Linked DNA regions of Homo sapiens: all the other regions are linked to region 1. The links come from fine-mapping of genetic effects on gene expression. A gene starts in region 1. Each other region holds a variant in brackets. All regions are shown on one strand. Distances are from middle to middle.

Region 1 (5,000 bases):
TGGGCTCAAGCGATTCTCTTATCTCAGCCTCCCAAGTAGCTGGGATTACAGGCATGCACCACCCCACCCAGCTAATTTTTGTATTTTTAGTAAAGACAGGGTTTCACCATGTTGGCCAGGCTGGTCTCAAACTTCTGATCTCAAGTGATCCGGCTGCCTCAGCCTCCCAAACTGCTGGGGTTACACCCAGCCCCACCTCCAGTTTTTAAGGAGAGCTGTGCACATTGATCATCCACACCGACGACTTCACCTGAAGCGTCCACACCTGACACACCCCTGCAGAACCCACATTTTCTCCCTGTAATTCTGGTATCAGGAACTGGAGCCCTAGTATTAGGAAGTCGTATTGGGACGTCAGTGGAAGGCAGAAACCATCAGTCCATTTTGCAGCCTTCTAAGGCCACTCCAACGTGTCCCAGCAGCCTGGAGAATAACAAATTCAAGGGTCTACTTTGATTAACAGATTACAACCAAGTTAGTAGAGAATAAACAAGGTTTGCCCAGAGATAAGGGAGGGGAGACATAAAGTTATTGCCTGTAATCCCAGCACTTTGGGAGACCGAGGTGGGTGGATCACCTGAGGTCAGGAGTTCGAGACCAGCCTGGCCAACATGGCAGAACCCCATCTCTTCTAAAAATATAAAAATTAGCCCGGTGTGGTGGCGCATGTCTATGGTCCCAGCTACTCAGGAGGCTAAGGTGGGAGAATCGCTTGAACCTGGGAGGCGGAAGTTACAGAGATTGCGCCACTGCACTCTAGCCTGGCGACACAGCGAGACTCCGTCTCAGAAAAATAAATACATAAATAAAGTTATCACCTGAAAAAAAAATGTGAGAAGGGAAAAAAATAAAAAGGACTTTCATTTACTTGGCCCTCACTGATTAAGTTTGGCCAACTCTCCTGTTCAGGTGCTGTAATTCAAAGATGAAAAGAAGCTGCGCCCAGTCCGGACGCCAGGCCTTGTGTCCCCACCTAAGAAATCTGCACGGCAGGGATTAACCAGGGGAGAAGGGCCTGGCCGCTGGGCCTTGGCTTCCTCTTAGGCAGAGTTCCAGCCCCTGAGACTTGAGCCGACCGGCCTGAGACGACTCCGGCCGCCGCCACCCTATGCTGGCAAACAGGCCTCTCCCCAGCAGGCTCCAGGGGCAGCCACCTGCGCTCTCCCTGCCCTCCCCTACCCCACTCTCCTAGAGGAAGGATGAAGAACAGCTCCCCCTCCTTACTCTCAGGCACCCACAGATTTCTGAGCTGCCGTCACCACTGACGAGAACCCAGGTCCCCTGGAGGGATCGCTTCTCCTTCTGATTCCATCCTCCCCATCAATGAACACGCAGGAACACCCACGCTCCCGCTCCTCCTACTCCAGGGGGAGACCGAACCCGAGAGCGACATCCGGAGCTGGAAGCCGCTGCAACGGGGGCGCCGGCCTCCCTGCCCCGCAGTCTCCCGCCCTTTCCCAGACACCGGAGGATCCCAGACCAGCCCAGTATTCCAGACGGAGAGGGTGCCCGAGTCCTCCGCAGGGCCCCGCCTCCCTAGGCGCTCGGCGCTGGAGACCTAGGGGAGCGCGCGAGAGAAACGCTGAGCTCCACCCGGCTGGGGCGGAGGCTGAGCACTATACCCGGGACTCGAACCCCGCGCCCTCGTCCCCCAGCTTTAGGCATCCCACGGCGAGCCCTGGCCCAACGCCCCCGCGCCGCGTCTTCCCCCGCACCCCCGCCCGGAGCCGAGTCCCGGGTTGCCAGCGCGCCCATCCCGCCCCCAACAGGTCTCGGGCAGCGGGGAGCGCGCTGCCTGTCCCGCAGGCGCTGGGAGGCGAGCCGGAGCGAAGCCGAGGGCCGGCCGCGCGCGCGGGAGGGGTCGCCGAGGGCTGCGAGCCCGGCCACTTACGCGCGGGCTCTGGGGAACCCCATGGAGAGGAGCACGTCCAGCGCCGATCCATGCTTGATGGTGCCGGGGCGCTGTTGGCGGTTCCTCCGGGGGGTGACTTTGCTGTACAGCTCCTCTCTCGCAGCCATGCCGAGCGGACTGGGGTGGCCGTACTGAGCCATGGCTCAGCGGCCAGCCATCGCCAGGGAAGGAGCCCGAGCCGGATGGTTCGGGAAGGAGGAGGGAGTCGGGCTGGGCCAGGGGAGGGGGCTCGGGGACCCAGAGCCAGGCAGGAGGCGGCGGCAGCGGAGGCGGCGCTCCGAGCTTCCCCAGTGTCGGGACTCTGACGCTTCCTGGTGAGGCCACAGGAGCCAGAACGCCGGCAAGCGGCCGCTGCGGGACCAGCCTCAGCCACTCGGGCCCCCGGCTGCCCCCAGCTCTGCGCCTGCAGTAGCCCTGTCTCCTCCGCCCCCTTCCCTCTCCTCGCCTAGCAGTCCGGGAATTTGCAATGAGTAATTTTTGAATGGATCAAAAAGGAAAAGGAGCCTTGTGGGCTGGCCCTGACTTGCCTGTACCCGGGCCCCGCCCCTCTCTTAAAGCGGCCGCGCTGTCCGAGGCTGCTCCGTGCGGGCAAGAGCTGTAGTCGCGCTACTTGGAGACGGAGGATCCCAACCTTATGGGCTGCTTGTGTGCTTCACCTCCCGAGAGTCACCCCCGGCGCCCCAGCCCTCTCCTTGGCTGGCATACCCGCCCAGCTGGGCCTCAAGACAGGAGATCAACCCATCTCAAGTTTCATGTGATTCTAGATGCGGTTATTAATGGAAATTGGGTGAACTGGTGGATGATACTAATGGACCAGAAGGCCAAGCCGTAAGGCCTAGGTAAAAGGTTTTGCTTCTCAAAGATCCTGCAAAACCCAAAGGGTTGTTAGGACCATCGGAAGTTGAGTTCCCAATCAGCCGGCCAAGTGGCTGCACTAAAGACCTACTGCGCTCTACAAGGTTATGGTCAGTGACTGAATAGTGCCTTCCCGGTGGGGCAGAGGGGTTGGGGAGAAGGACCTCAGGTTCTCAGAGGTGGCAGGACCTGGGAGGGGACAAGAAAAGAGGGACAGGGCAGAAAGAAGAGGGAAGGGAAAAAGAAAGGAGGAAGGAGGAGGAGAAGAAGGAAGGGCTAGGAGGGTAGAGGAAGAAGGAACAGAGAAAACATACTTCCTAATTATAAGAGGTGTTCAAAAGGGAACGGGCTTATTTCATTAGGGAGTGGATATCCTGTCAATAAAAGGATTCAAAGACGGACCGAATCACCACTGCACAATAATAAGTGAATTGTATCATAGGCTGGACAAAACTACTCCCACTGCAAAGATGGTGGAAGCCACAACCATATTGATGCCCCATGCCCCACCTGGTGAATTTGGCTGGGGGATGCTAACCCTCTTTCGTTTGGAAACAAAGTCATTGTCTTCAGTCAGGGACAAGGGTCCCACTTGCTATAATGAAAGAGGCAATGAGTACACCCTAACTGATAGTCTTTTTTGGGTAATAATAATAATAAAACCTAACATTTATTGGGCTCTTGTATGTGCCAGTCATTGTGCTAATCGTAATGAATGAACTCACTGAAGTTTTATACTGACCCTAGGAGTGTGTTTAATCATTATCCCAGTTTTACAGATGAGAAAACTCAGCTCAGAGAGGTTGGGGAAGATCATAGAGCTGGTAAGTGCGTAGCTACAGCACTCGTATCCACTGCGGTGCCTTAGACAAGTTACTTCTCTCTACAGCCTAATTTCCTCATTGGTATGGACCGTGGTAACCTAACCTTGCACACACTGGGTTTTCCAGAAATGTCAGTCCGGGCCTGTCCCTGGTTGGAATATGGGGGAGGGATGGTGACCAGCACCCATGGAGTGGCTTTTTGAGGTTGCTTTATAAGGCCTGTGAAGGTTTTACCAGGGGAAATGATACAGTGTAACTCCCTGAGCCCGGAATTGGTTTCCTAAAGAATAGCCAGTGGTGTTTGGAAGCAGGGAGATAAGACAGCTGGAGCTTAAGCAACAATGTGTATTAATTCTGCCTCCTGCTGTACAAAGGATGAGGGAAAATTAATGCTTCCTGGGTAGTAGCTGCTTCCAGAGCAAAGGGGATATCCTGGAGACCTTGCAGAATGCTCTTCCAGGACATGGAGCAAAAAGACAAGACTGGGCTGGCAACACCATACCTAGTATTAGCCTCCTTGGATGTGTTCGGTAAAACATGCTGGATTTTATCCAGTATTCTGAATTGTTTCCAAATGCCTGGGCTGAAAGTCAAATGATCTGGATCTTAGTCAAGAGATAATAATGTATGTGAAAGCGCTTTGTAAACCATAAAGCGCTACATAAATGATAACTCAAATTTATTGAGTACTTACTATATGCTGGTGTTGTTCTTTGCTTCTTACATATGTGACTCAAACAATTCCTTGACAAGACTATGAACTAGGAACTACTTTACAAATGAAGGTGCTGAGCCAGAGGTCAAGTATCTTGTCCAAGGTCACATGGCTAGTAAATGGCAGAGCCAAGATTTGAACTCTTAACATTTGGCCAAACAACTAGTTAACGACCATTGTTATGATGATAAAAGGACACCAGCCTTTAAGATAGTTTTTTGACTCCATCTATGCCCCTTGACATAGAATTGCTGGATCTCTGTTTCTCCAGAAAAATTGAATTAATTGTCTTTCTCCCTGCCTTTAGGCAAACTGTAAGATAAAGGAAATGATGCATATAAAAATAGTTTTAGGTAGACTGGAAAAAGCACTATGAAAAACTAGGCACCTGAGATGCAAACTGTTTTTGTCTGGGACACTTTTACAGAAATCCCAGCTTGGCTTCCTCACTTGTCTTCAGCTCAGTGCAAACCCCTGTTTTATTTAGGACTCCTGCCATTTGTTCTGCACTGGGTTGGGGGGCTGGCAATTCAGATGCATTGTGCTTTAATTGTGTTGACGTTGAAAAGCTAGGAAAAGCTTCATAAATGTCTACACTGTTCTATTACAAAGAGAGAAGAGGGGGGCTGGGTGCGGTGGCTCACCCCTGTAATCCCAGCACTTTGGGAGGCTGAGGTGGGCGAATCACAAGGTC
Region 2 (7,104 bases), 160 kb before region 1:
TAACCAAAATGCCTTGGCATGGTGTTTCCATCTTGAGTGGCAATCAAAGAAAGAAGCAGTACATATTTTCCATTATACACATCTATCCTGTACAGAGTCCATGATAGTTGAACAGCTGGAAAATTCCAATTTGTTGTGTAATGGCAGCTAAGTGTAAAGTATTTGCAAGAACTGATTGTATATTAAGTTCGACTAGTCATCACTATAATTTTAAACCTACATACACCAATCCTACTATTATTTGTACTTAAAAATGAAGTTATTTCATCTGCATTTACAATCTTTTTCCCTTTTCGCTTGAATTTTCATTATAGCTAGTCACTTTCCTAGGGAAATTCAATATGTTGAAGTATTAAAGAGAAGCAAATCCAATTTTAATTCTATGTTTAAAAATGAAAAGCTTCTGCTATCACCTAACAAAATATCCCCCATCACCTTTGTAAAGTGAACATTAACCTAAATAGATGTTAAATCGCTCTTTACCCCACCCTCCTCTGCCTGTCTCATCTCTCCCCGCAATGCAGCCTTTTAGACTAGTGCCTCTTCTTTCTCACACGTGTGCTGGATTGCAATTTAAATGCAAATAACCCTGCACCTCATTATCTAAGTTCGTGCAGACTCAGTAACAGTTGCCTGTGCTGAAGGCTGTGAAATCAAACGGAGGTTCATCTGTATTCTAACACATGGATTACTTAGAGTAATTTCAAAAGAGCAATTCATCACTGCTTTGAAATTAAACACTGGACTTGCAGAGTGCCTAGGTTACGGAGGAATGCCTTTCTTTTACCACATAGGGAAGCCTTTCCACAAAGGCAATGAGATAGGAACTTCTTTTACTGTAGCTGTTCAATTAGTTCCCAACAACACTAGGTAATTGAAATAAGAGACTTCATTTTAATACGAATACAGCTAGTTGAGTGGAAAAGACACACTTATGGTAATGTTAAGCACAATGACAAGACAATCTATATGCATTCCAAATACCACTAACAAGGAAATTATCAACAATGATTTACCAAACAGACATCACTCCAGAAGGCATATTTTTTATTTTTTATTTTTTGCAAAATCATCTTTTAAATATAAGGTTACTTTAAAATAATTCTTTGGTTAAAGTATAATTAAAATAAAAAGTAGAAACTCCTCCAAGCCTTTCACTACAGAGTGAAAAATACGCCCCTCTTTCAGCCATCAGATGGCCATTTAATCAGCCATTCAGATTCTATGAATCTAAATGTAATGGAAAACACTGTAATCTGAACTCCATACTGGGGTGAAGCAATAAGCTCCTAGCTACCAATGCAGTGATGGTGAAGAGAGCCTGGGAAAATGAAACCCCCAGCTTATGCATTAAAATGTGCCAATTACTCTGGTCCATGGAGGAACAGACGCGGTATTTTAAAATCACAGGAAACAAAGTTCTGTCTGTGAATAACACTGGGGCATTACCGGATTGATGTGGCACACTTGTAGAAGCAGGAAATGCTTTCAGGCTTTCAATCCCAGATTAAAACCTTTAGTTAATTTCATTTCACCTAGTTTATTTCAAATAACTTTCTACATTAAAACAAAATTCCTCTGTACAAGAAACCATTTGCTTCTTATCTGTCAATTCCTTCCTTGCCCTTCCTTCTCCTCTCCCCATACATCATTTGTTTTAATAAGCATCAGCTTCAGATCAAAAAGAACCAGCTGCAACTTCAGGTTATATATATTAGCCTATACTTTTTGGATGTATATGAAATTGAGTAATATAGTTGTCTCTTTCTTTTATTATACATAGATGCCACATGATTTACAAATAATTTCTCAGTTGCAGTGCAAGTTTAGTTTTTTAAATAGGTAAGTGTGCAAGGGGAACTTAATGTGAATTCAGATCTTTTGGGCCATTTTGACAAGCAATTTGAAATAATGAAATTGAAATGAAAGCAGAGAAATACAATCTTTCTTGTTTTCCACCTGAATTATTCGGAAAATTATTTCAGATCTCTATCTCCTTTTGCTTATATAGACCATTGCCTAAGGCAGTGTCCATATTGGACTAAGAACAATGGATTGTAGCCCAGTCAGACAGATTTATCAGTTCGTCATACAACTAAGATAACCTAGAAGATGGAGTGGATAACCTATTCCAGACTCTATTTCATACATTACAGATACTGCCCAGAACACACTGCTACAGTTTCAAGGTGAGGTGTTCAAGCATTATTCTGAGCACTCAACGCCCATGAAAATTTGTGGTGAATCTGTTAAAGATTATGGATCTGATTAAACAGTGGATTCACTTCATTACAAATACCAGAAGAATGAATGGTAGAGCCATTACATTACTTGTAATGTGACTTTTCTCTTAAGACCTTTATTGGGAATATTCCCTCCCAACATTTTATATTAACACATCATCACAGGGTTATTTCCATACCCAGAAGCTGGGTCAGTGTTTGCGCAACGCTAGAAGAAACCATGATTGATTTGTTTCTCAAAATGTAAAATACATGACATATTTTTCTAAGTGACCTAAAAAAAATACAACTATGGGCCAGGTGTGGTGGCTCACACCTGTAATCCTAGCACTTTGGGAGACAGGGGCAGGAGGATCGCTTGAGCCCAGGAGTTCAAGACCAGTCTAAGCATTATAGTGAGACCCTGTCTCTAAAAACAAAACAAAACAACTATAATCCTTTTGCTCATTAACATATATAGCCAGCATCCTTTCATGTCCTCTTCTTTCTAGGGGTTATCAAGTTGTAGTTTCAAACGCAAGCATAGATGTATTTTTATATACCTTACGTTTTATGCATCTGAGTTTTGAAACATAGTCAATGTTACTGCAACATGTAAAGATCCATTTTACACTAACTAATGTCTCTTTAAAGGGCTGGCATTTCACTTTGCATACATCTTCTACAGAGTGAACTATACCATAGGAGACCATCATCTGTGGCCATCAACAGTCAGATAGTCACACAATTAAACAGACATTGATAACTGATGATTTGGTTTGATTGTCATTTATTTCTTTTAAATAAACTCCCTCTAAATGCAGGAAGTAAGTATAATGAGAAACCACAGAATGTGGCTCTCCAAATTTCCTCAGTAGCCCTACCTATGTATTTTAAATTATCATAGAAAAACAAACAAAACGACAGCACAAGTAGCAGTGCAGCCATGACTGTCATCATTTATATTAGTTCCCTGACTTACTATACATCCCTGGTATAATTGATGCATTTGTGGATGTTCCATTATGGTTGACACGTACTGTAAGTGTACAACAACCTGACCCTTGGTATGGTTTGCAAACATGTCCATATTGCACAGAATGAACTTCTTGC[T/C]GCAAATAATATATCTAACATACATCCTTTCAAAATGTAACATCCTTAACTAGTTAACATAGTCTAGAGTCTAGGGGCAAAGACAAGCAAATATTGATGATTTAGAAATGCAGTAGCACGTTAGGCTACAACATGGTTAATTCCAAGTCACTTCATATTTTGCAAGTTCTTTGCTCCTATGATTGAATACTTCAAACATGTATCTTATCTTTCCTCCTGAGTATCCAAAAGTGCTTTGGAGAGCAAAAGTGCTTTGTCTCCCCATTTCACAGAAGCAAGGAGGGGGGATAGGGCTGTAGCAAGAAGGGCCAGCTGCTCTAGAGAAAATGTGGCAGTACCAGGGTAAATGTTAGCATCCTTAAGCGGGTATCTTCAGCCAGCAACACTGGTGTATGGGGGCTAGTGACGGTAGGATTTCATGTGTAACCTAAGAACAACTCTCTTCAGGGCATGTTTTCTAATAATCTTAAAAGGATTCCTCAGCTTGGCTCTACCTAACTGGAAAATGGAGATAAAAAAAAAAAAATTCCATCCCCAAGCTGTCCTTTCAATGCTCCCCCAGCTGGTCTGGGCACACTCCTTCCTCTTGCACCCCTTAGAGCGGGCCAGCAGCTCCCTCTGGGAGAAATGAGGCCCCTTAGCTGTGCATACCCAGAGGGAACGAAACATTCTCTTCTGTAGCAGGTGCCCCGATTTAGGAAGACAATTCTCCAAAGCCTTGTGAGCTAGGCAAGAGTCCAGAGAGAACACATTTTTTTCCTCTGAATCAAGTCTTTCTCTCATTTACACAGTCTCATCTTAAGAACTTTAAGTGTGAAAGGAAATATGCTAAATTATTCTGAGCTGTCCACTTAGAGTGTGGTGTGGATTTTCCCACTGTTTTTAAACACACAGAAAGACACACTCCAAAAGGCCTTTCCTTCTTGTTCACTGGTGTGGTTTATTCTTGAAGCAAGGTCTCTCTCCAGTTGAAGCCCCCAGTTGGTCCATGGGTAAGAGGAAGGATTGGTGGATCTGTCAGCTGCCATATTCCAGTTTCTCCTAATTCTTCACAGGAACAAAATCCCAGATATGGGATCTGAAGTAAGAGTCGTAAAGAAAGGGGATATTAGGAGATAGGTTTAATGCTTTAACTTTTACCTAAATACAAAGATATTCATGTGGCCCTAGAGAATTGCAGTCAGAAATGGATAGTGGCTTTGTAGAAATGCATTCCCTTCAAAAATCGATAAATAAAATAAAATGGGTAAAACTGGTAACTTAGAAGAGTATTTACATTGCAAGAGGATTCATCAGAAGGATCCATTAAATGGTGACCTCCCCTAAAGTAATTAAGTCATTGTTCATAGATTGCTGCTTAATTGGGTGGCAGAAAAAGAGGACCAAAATACATAAGGCTACAATGCCAGGAGTTAATTCCCAATTGCAAGTCCAGGTAAAAAGGCAGCTCAAGGCCGGGCACAGTGGCTCACGCCTGTAATCCCAGTACTTTGGGAGGCCGAGGCGGGCGGGTCACTTGAGGTCAAGAGTTCGAGACCAGCCTGGCCAACATGGCAAACCTCATCTATACTAAAAATACAAAAAATTAGCTGGGCGTGGTGGCATGTGCCTGTAATCCCAGCTACGTGGGAGGCTGAATCAGGAGAATCGCTTGAATCCAGGAGGCAGAGGTTAAAGTGAACCGAGATTACGCCACTGTGCTCTAGCCTGGGTGACAGAGCAAGGCTCTGTCTCAAAAAAAAAAGAAAAAAGAAAAGAAAAAGTCAGCTCAAACATTTCTGAAATTATACTTGGACCCAATGGAAAATATTTTTCAATTTGAAAAAATTTGTTTCACCCGTTTTTTTTTTCTCCTTACGAGTCTCTGCAACATTCAAAGCTGAAGCTGTGCTCTCCCTCACTTCAGTTGTCACAGCAATTTTAAAACTTATTTTTGTCTGTGTCCAGAGCTGCATTTACAAACAAGACAAAATTCTCTGTCTTCCAGCACTTACAAATGAGGACAGATGCATAAATAAACTTTTCAAAAATGTGAAAAAAGATTGCAATTGAGTTTGAACCAGGTTCTCTGGCGGCAGAGAAAGGAAGTATGTAATTTGCCTGAAGGGAAGTGTGTGGGAGGCAGCTGACCAGAAAACCTCTCCCACAGGCACAGAAAGGAAGACTCCAGATGTGTGGGTCAGCCTCATGGGTTTTCTGTCTTGCTGTCTTGTTCCTGGCTTTGCCTTTTAGCCTCCTCATTTGAAACTGCTGCATGCCTCGGCCTACCTTCAAGGACCTGTGTTTGAGTTAAGCTTTCAGATGCTGTCTTTTGGACTGACCTCTATTGATCCAACCCAAGTTCCCTCAGGGAAATTCAGAGAAGGTCCCTCAGGGAAATCCAGACAATTTGCTTATAATTCCTAGCTGCTTCCTACATTTTAGCTCTTAGAAGCTAGAACTAGCTCTCATACATTGTTTTTCTAACACAAGGCTTAATAAAGTGCCCTGCACAGAGTATCACTCAATACATCTTGGTTGAGTGAAGCAATAAATGAATATTCCCAGCTCAGCATAAACACATGCTTCAAAGAACTTGGTAATCAGCCAGTCACTGTACTGACTTCAAACTACTAGCCATCACGGACCCCAAAGTACGAGAATGAATTACCTTTCGGACCATTTGTACGAAGTCCTTGGAGTTCTGAGGTGACAGGCCCTGAAGTTGGCAGGTACACGCTTCAAGGGAAGATGCGTGGGCCACAATCAGGATGTTATTTCCTGGGGGAAAATGGCAAGGTATGGGAAGACTGTTTCTATAAAGACATGGAAACTTTGCAAATACTGGAAGCTAACTAAATGCTCTGCAGGGGAGCAAACACACTCAAGAAGACAATTTGCCTAAGCAATATTTTGAAAGTGCTTTGTTACTGATAAGGCAGCTTAATCTTTTTAAAGAAAACATTTATCTTAAAATAGTTACAGATTTATGGGGCCGGGTGTGGTGGCTCATCCCTGTAATCCCAGTAATTTTGAGAGAACGAGGAGGGAGGACCACTTGAGTTCAGGAGTTTGAGACCAGCCTGAGCAACATAGTGAGACCCTGTCCCTATAGAAAATTTTTAAAAAATTAGCTGGGTGTGGTGGCCTGTGCCTGCAGTCCCAGCTACTTGGGAGGCTGATGTGGGAGGATCACTTGAGCCCAGGAGATTGAGGCTATAGTGAGCCATGATTGCATCACTGCGCTCCAGCCTGAGTGTCAGGAGCAAGACCCTGTCTCAAAAATAATAATAATAATTATGGATTTATGGGAGGGTTACATACATATACATACATACCGACAAGATCCCATGAACCCTTCATCCCATCCCCCTCCAATGGTAACATCTTACATAACTATGGTACAGTATCAAACCCAGGAAATGGACGCTGGTACAATACACACAGCGTATTCAGATTTTAGCAGGTGTGCAAGAAGTCGTTTGTGCATATGTGACGATACAGTTCATGCAATTCTATCATATGTGTAGCTTTTTGTAACACCATGACAATCAAGATACAGGACTGTTGTGTGTCCATAGGGCTGTCTGTGCAACTCCTTCTAACATAGTTTTAAGTGTTCCCACTATAGAACTATGAGCACTTGAGACTTCCTGGTTGATAGAACATGTTGTGTACCTTTATGGTAGTGAGTGGCTAATCAATGAAAACTGGAAGGTGGGAATCATTCATAATACTGTTGCTCATGGCTGCCTACTGTTTGAATATAAGTATTTTAACTTAAAAAAAG
Region 3 (7,104 bases), 56 kb before region 1:
AATGCAAGGTCTGTCCAGACCATGAAGTCCCACCTCAACCGCCAATCAATAATAAGACATGACATCTTAAGTGTTATTTAAATGCTAAGCACTGTGTCAGCATTTAACATTTATCTCGGCTGGGCGCAGTGGCTCATGCCTGTAATCCCAGCACTTTGGGAGGCCGAGGCGGGCGGATCACGAGGTCAGGAGATCGAGACCATCCTGGCTAACACGGTGAAACCCCGTCTCTACTAAAAATACAAAAAATTAGCCGGGTGTGGTAGTGGGCGCCTGTAGTCCCAGCTACGCGGGAGGCTGAGGCAGGAGAATGGCGTGAACCCGGGAGGCGGAGCTTGCAGTGAGCCGAGATCACGCCACTGCACTCCAGCCCGGGCGACAGAGCGAGACTCCATCTCAAAAAACAACAAGAACAACAACAAAAAATTTATTTCATTTAGTCTTCAGAACAACTCTATGACATGGGTACTAAAATTGCACTCACTTTACAGATGAGAGAAGGAGAAGGTAAATACTTTGTACAAGGTTATGCAGATAATGAGTGCATCCCGGGCTCAGACACAGGCTTGCCAGACACCTCTGTTCTTCAACACCATCCTACCCTGCCTTCCCATCATCAGCTGACATTGCTTCACTCTGTGCGAAGATGGAAAGAGGAAGCACATTTCAGGCTTAATTCTCACCATCAGTATCTTCAGTTTTACTGATGAGGAAACTGAGGGTCACAAGTTGTGAAGCAATCTGTCCAAAGTCACACGACCGTGAAGCAGCAGAACCAGGAGTCAGAGCCAGGACTGAGTTCAATCCTTCACTCTCTCCATTTTACCCCGCTGCCTCTGGGCCAAATACCTGGAAAAAGAGGTCTGCCTCTCACTTGCTTCAGGTTTTAAAGTAAAAGCAGAAGAGGAAGTTCAGAAGGTGTTCTTCTTCAGTGTCCCCTAAATATGAGATTTTGAGAAAGGCTTGACCCTAAGGGCCAATAGGTAGCAATTTCAGGAAGGCCGATTTAGAGAGAATTGAATGGCCTTGTAAGGTAGTGAGCTCCCCAAGAATGGAGGAGTTCAAGCGCAGTCTTGATGACTGTGGCAACACTGTAGACAGCAATTGTTGTTTTGGCTGTCCAGTATCTAAGCACTCTTCTTATTTAGGGGAATCCCAATATGAGCGAAGGGGGAGCCCCACTAAAGAAACTGATGGGGCAGATGTTCTGTCTTTCAGCTTCCTGACAGATGATGCCCAGCATATGACTTAGACGAAGGCAATCAACTACTCCCATTAAAGACTTTGGAACCTAAGGTGACCAAGAGTGGAGGGGTCACGGCAAGTGTCTGCAGCAGTGTCCTTGACTCCTGCCTGTTTCCAGAGTCTGATTATCCATGCCCCTGATAGTTCTGTGAGCCACCTAAACTCGTTTCCTGCTTAAGTTATCCAGAGGTGGTTTCTAACCTGGATATAAACATCTGATGGAAGGCTGCACTGGATGAGGTCACAAAGCCAGCTGCATATCTGAGTTACTGGTGGAGTTCAGTAAAAATACAGATTCCCATGTTCCCCAAGACCTACTGGATCAGAATTTTCAGGAATAACCCTGAACATTCATTTTTTTTTTTTTTTTTGAGATGGAGTCTCGCTTTGTCGCCCAGGCTGGAGATGACTGACATGTGGCCAGATTTGGGAGTGGCTGAGATAAATAAACTTTAGGGCCCCCAAAATAAAATACTATGATTTTCAAAAAAACTCTTACCAAGAATTTGGCCATGGCTCTCAGAAAAATGCAACATGCCTATAGTTTCTTTATAATTGCTAACATAAAGCTTATCTTTTTGGACAAATCACACACACTCCTAAGAGGCTAAAGCTGTAATATATCTTCTATTTCCATAGGATATTCCTTCCAAGGCCTTTTGCATCTACAGATCTATTATCACAGTTGATGTAACTTCCCACCTTCCTCAGGTGGGTGAGATCCATGATTTCACATGCATTCGTCTGATGCCGCAGAGTCAGCTGACCACATGGCTTTTTACTTCCCAAACCAAAGCCTCTCTTCGTCGTGTGGCTATTCTTGGGATCTACAGTGCACCTCCTGTGTGCCCTAAAGAGAGCTTCATCCCATGTGAGCCTCAACTCCTCTGTGTGAAAATGAGGAACACTGGGCCGGGTGCAGTGGCTCACGCCTGTAATCCCAGTACTTTGGGAGGCCGAAGTGGGCGGATCACAAGGTCAGGAGATCAAGACCATCCTGGCTAACATGGTGAAACCCCGTCTCTACTAAAAATACAAAAAATTAGCTGGGCGTGGTGGCGGGTGCCTGTAGTCCCAGCTACTCGGGAGGCTGAGGCAGGAGAATGGCGTGAACCCAGGAGGCGGAGCTTGCAGTGAGCCGAGATCGCACCACTGCACTCCAGCCTGGGCGACAGAGCGAGATCCATCTCAAAAAAAAAAAAAAAAAAAAAAAAAAAAAACCACCCAGAGAAGAAAGATGAATGTCCAGTCAGCTTCCTGGGGCTCAGCTCAGAGATGTACATCCCTGTACCACTATTCCTCATTCATCCAGGAGCAAAATCCCCTCTTCTCCTGCAAATGTAACTGCTGTTAAGAAGCTGCACTTGGTAGTGGAGTTCTATATACTTCAGGGCGTTTGCTTTTGTTTGTGCAACACCACAGGTAGGAAGGTACCTGTGAAACCCATGGAGTTCTCCTCTTGCCTCCCAGCTAGTCAGGGCTGTTGGGTACTTTCTGGGGTAGAAATTCCCTAGCTTCCCTTGGTGACCCTCCTGGTGCTCAACAGGATGCAGAATGTGAGGGAAAAAGAGCGAGCACCAACAGGACCCTGGTTTATGCCTATTACTCAGGGCCAGGATGGAAGCAAGCATGAGAGCCCCTGGGTCCATTTGGGCTGCTGAGAAAGCCCCTCTCGTGTGACGTGCGTCCCCCACCAAGGAAGCATCCAAGTCCACCCTGGGTGTGTATCTACCCAAGCAGCTCCTTAGGAAAGTCAGCAGACCTCCCACCTCCTCATGCTGGAGCTTCATGTCAGCTACCGCCCTCCAGAGGACTTTGAGGACAATATGGCCATCTGGTTTCTGTACAATCTGCATCCGTATAGTGCTCATAAACTTATCTTCCAGCTCGTTCAAAATGTACACAGCTGAATTCTACTGCTGACTTTGGCACTTGCTCCTGGTATCTGAGAAGAACAGATTCAATTAAAAAGGAAATAACAGATGCTGCAAATCACTCCCTCATTTTCAGAGAAGTTTTTTCCCCCTAGTGCCCTGAATTACTTGATGATGAACAGCAATGCAGTAAAAAAAAAAAAAAA[AAT/T]GCAGCTGGCATGACAACTTCCAACTTGGCTTCAAACCAAGGGGAAGCTGCGGGCTGTCCTTTCTAGATGGTCTTTATGCCCGGCACATTCCTTTCTTTGGTATGGGTATTATTGTGTAGAGAACTTGGCTGGAAGTAAAGGGATAGAAAAAAATGAACCCTGGGGTTCTTTTAGCCTTAAGATTCTTTGCTATTACTCACTCTTCCTCACAGTATCTTTGTGAGGGGTGTATGTAGTCAGTGGGACATTGAAGGCAGGATTAGTATTCCCATTTTAGAGATGGAAATGCAAAGGCCCAAGGACAGCAGGTTATTTGCAAACTCCAGTAAAGGAAATTGGTTCTATCAGAAAACCTTGATTCTTTTTCCACATGCACCTGTGCCCGTTACACAGCATGAGGTAGTAATGAGGCCAAGGCCAGGCTGAAGTGCCCGGGGGCATGCTCAGGAGACTTAGAGGCATACACGCACTCCCGGCACATGTCCTTGCAAGGCACTTAAAGGCTGCCAGTGCCCGGCCTTCCTCGGCTCCGTTCAGGCCTGCTTATCACATCCTGCCCTGTGCTCAGCTTCACTCTGCCTGAGTCTTGTGAGCCTCCCTTGGACTCAGGGGTGACCATCTTGTTATTGATGACTTGTGATGGGACCCACGTGGCTGGAGAGTGACGAAAGAAAAATGGAAGGAAAGAGATGCATTTGGAATAGGGTCTGATTACCTCTCCTCTCTTTCCCTAAGCACTAAAATGATTACGAATTCCAAGGTTTGGACAGGAGATGGGGGACCCCCAAAAATGTCTGCTACAGAGATTTTGGGAGCCTGGGACTGCAAGATTAGGAGCTCCCTTGCCAGAGTGTATAAAGAGGAAGGGTGGGGGCTCTCTTCTGGAGAATTAACTGAGGAGATTCTGCCTGGACACTGAAGCACAGAGTCAGGAGAGCCCAGGCTTCCTTCCATGAATCTCGTTTCCAACAGTCATCAGAGAACAGGGCTCCCACACTTCCTAACCCATTGACTTTGCTGGGACCTTATTTTCTGAAACAAGAGTCAAGACCAATGTTTCCTCTATGGCCTGTCAATGAAAAGGGATGATTTGAAAATTATGATTATCCCTGAAAATCCAGGGTATATGCCTTTATGTTCCCATGGCTGCTCTACCATCTCCACCCCCACCACCCTGCCCCCAGGACAAAGCCTACCCACCTGGGGTTCCTCTCCTTATGGAATGAGAGTCAAAAGCTCTAGGGAAGTGGTATGCGGCATGGGCTTTCTGTGTTCCCATTGCCTACCAATTCTACATGCCCCGTCCCCCTCCCCAATTCTCCCCAGCAGGCCCTTATGGGGCAGCTTCCACCCCCTATACCACTTCTACTTTGGTGCCTTTATTTGTCCATTTTTGGCTATATCGGCATTAGCTATGATTTAGCAAGATCACACGCTTCTGGAGGCAGAGATTGAGGATACCACGACCAGATGGATGGATGAACGTTTGACTTCTGGCTCTGCCACTTTTCAGGTGGGGGAGATCATGTCTGGTCCTTAATGTCCCTGAGCCTTCTTTTCAAGAAATGGGATGAGACTGGACCTGCCTTGCAGGGTGGTTGTGATGACACAGAGATAATGTGTGCAGAAGGCAGCACAATGCCTGGCTTGTAATAAGCGTGCACAACAATGGTGGCCCCACCATCTCTCCAACCACCAGCCCGCTCCGGGACTTGCTCTTTCGCCTCCTCCTAAATGCCTTTCCTAAACTGCATTTACCTCTGTCTTCTAACTGTTGGCCTTATCTTTCTTCTGCTCTGAGAACCTAGAAGCTAGACCATGTTGTTTATTATGATTATCTTAAATCCATGATTCAGAATGCTTTTTTTTTTTTTTTTTTTGAGACAGTCTCACTCTGTCGCCCAGGCTGGAGTGCAGTGGTATGACCTCGGCTCACTGCAGCCTCTGCCTCCTGGGTTCAAGCAATTCTCCTGCCTCAGCCTCCCAAGTAGCTAGGATTATAGGTGCCCGCCACCATGCCTGGCTAATTTTTGTAATTTTAGTGGAGACGGGCTTTCACCATGTTGGCCAGGCGGTCTCGAACTCCTGGCCTCAAGTGATCTGCCTGCCTCAGCCTCCCAAAGTGCTGGGATTACAGGCGCGACCCACAGCCCCTGGCCTCGAGAATGCTCTTTTGATCTAGGCAAATGAATGAACTAACAAATGAACAAACACATAAACCAAAAACAGGTTAGAGCTCTAGTTTTTGAGACCGTGTGATAATCTCTTCCAGAACTCTAGGAGAAAAGGCTAGGTGGGGACTCAAATTCCTCCCTTGCAAAAGCCTTAGATTAGATAATTCCACCCAGGATGTCAGGAATGCTTGATGACTTGGAGCATTTCTGCTGATTGTAGGCCTATACCCAGAAAGAGTTAACCAGCAGCTGCTGGGTTTATTTTCATTCTCTTTAATAAGGGAATCAAAGCAGCAGGACACAAACACACTGAATCTCTAATCACTCCAACACCCACACATGTTCCCCATCCCCTTCTGATTTAGTAAAGTCAAAGCTCGCTTACCACGCAATACATTTGACTGGCTTCTACAGCGGCTCACTTGTAAGTGATGAAATCTCAGCTTTTCCCCCAAACCTTTATTCCTGAAAGTCCATCATTACCAAATTCTTCCCCTGGAATAGATATTGGTATTGCCCTCTTGCTGCAGCCTCTTTTACAACGTAGACATGAAGGTGGGGCTGGGGATGGGAAAGTGAAGACTTCTAAGTCTCCAATAACATAGTTTGTTTTGAGACAGGGTCTCGCCTTGCTCTGTCACCCAGGATGGAGTGCAGTCGTGTGATCATGGCTCACTGCAGCCTTGCCAGGCTCAAGTGATTCACCCATTTCAGCCTCCTGAGGAGCTGGGACCACAGGCATGTGCCACCACACCCAGCTAATTTTTGTAGTTTTTGTAGAGACAGTGTTTCACCATGTTGCCCAGGCTGGTCTCGAACTCCTGGGCTCAAGCCATCTGCCAGCCTCAGCCTCCCAAAGTGCTAGGGTTACAGGCATGCACCACCGTACCTGACCATGAATGAGTTTATCATGTTTAAGTTGGCTGGGTTCTGCATTAAGGGAAGGTGATGGGAAATGACCATGTACTGAACACTGGCTAGATACATTATATACATGTTCTCATTTCTCAGTAACTGTGACAGAAGGATTATTATATGCTTTCGGCTGGTGAGAAAAATTGAAACCTAAAATGGGAACTTGCCCCATATTACATGGCTCCTGGAAGACAGAGCCAAGACTCATGCCAACATCATACTTAGAGATGCCTGACTCCAAAACCTGCGTGGATCTTTTTGAGGGATGCAAGTGAATGGTGCTGTCTATTTGGCAATAAAACTTTTTGGAAGAATGAATGAATAAATAGGTTACCAAAAGCCAAACAAGAAGGCCGGGCACAGTGACTCACACCTGTAATCCCAGCACTTTGGGAGGCCAAGGTGGGCGGATCACTTGAGGTCAGGAGTTCAAGACCAGCCTGGCCAACATGGTGAAACCCTGTCTCTACTAATAATACAAAAAAATTAGCTGGGTGTGGTGGTACATGCCTGTAATCCCAGCTACTCGGGAGGCTGAGGCAGGAGAATTGCTTGAACCTGGGAGGCGGAGGTTGCAGTGAGCCGAGATTGTGCCACTGCACTCCAGCCTGGGTGACAAGAGTGAAACTCCATCTCAAAAAAAAAAAAAAAAAGCCAAGCAAAGTTCAAAATGACTTAACAAAACTC

What was found. PIP is the estimated chance that this variant, and not a neighbour inherited with it, causes the effect.
Region 2: its variant is fine-mapped to the expression of UBASH3B in whole blood (TOPMed, PIP above 0.99).
Region 3: its variant is fine-mapped to the expression of UBASH3B in whole blood (INTERVAL, PIP above 0.99).

The regions. Positions count from the first base shown.
Region 1 is chr11:122,653,102-122,658,101 of GRCh38, reverse strand. It overlaps UBASH3B (ubiquitin associated and SH3 domain containing B), which reads right to left and starts at 2,380. Exons shown (of 14, transcript NM_032873.5): 1 at 1,892-2,380. The coding sequence starts at 2,052. RefSeq lists a silencer at 1,721-1,770 and an enhancer at 1,974-2,475.
Region 2 is chr11:122,807,058-122,814,161 of GRCh38, reverse strand. It overlaps UBASH3B (ubiquitin associated and SH3 domain containing B), which reads right to left. Exons shown (of 14, transcript NM_032873.5): 13 at 5,986-6,095; 14 at 1-4,413. The coding sequence ends at 4,276. Among named protein-coding and RNA genes, the nearest start is that of CRTAM, 28 kb to the left of the region's middle. RefSeq lists enhancers at 354-961, 962-1,570. The variant T/C (reference allele first, on the strand shown) is at 3,336.
Region 3 is chr11:122,708,258-122,715,361 of GRCh38, reverse strand. All of the region lies in intron 1 of UBASH3B (ubiquitin associated and SH3 domain containing B), which reads right to left. Among named protein-coding and RNA genes, the nearest start is that of UBASH3B, 56 kb to the right of the region's middle. The variant AAT/T (reference allele first, on the strand shown) is at 3,326.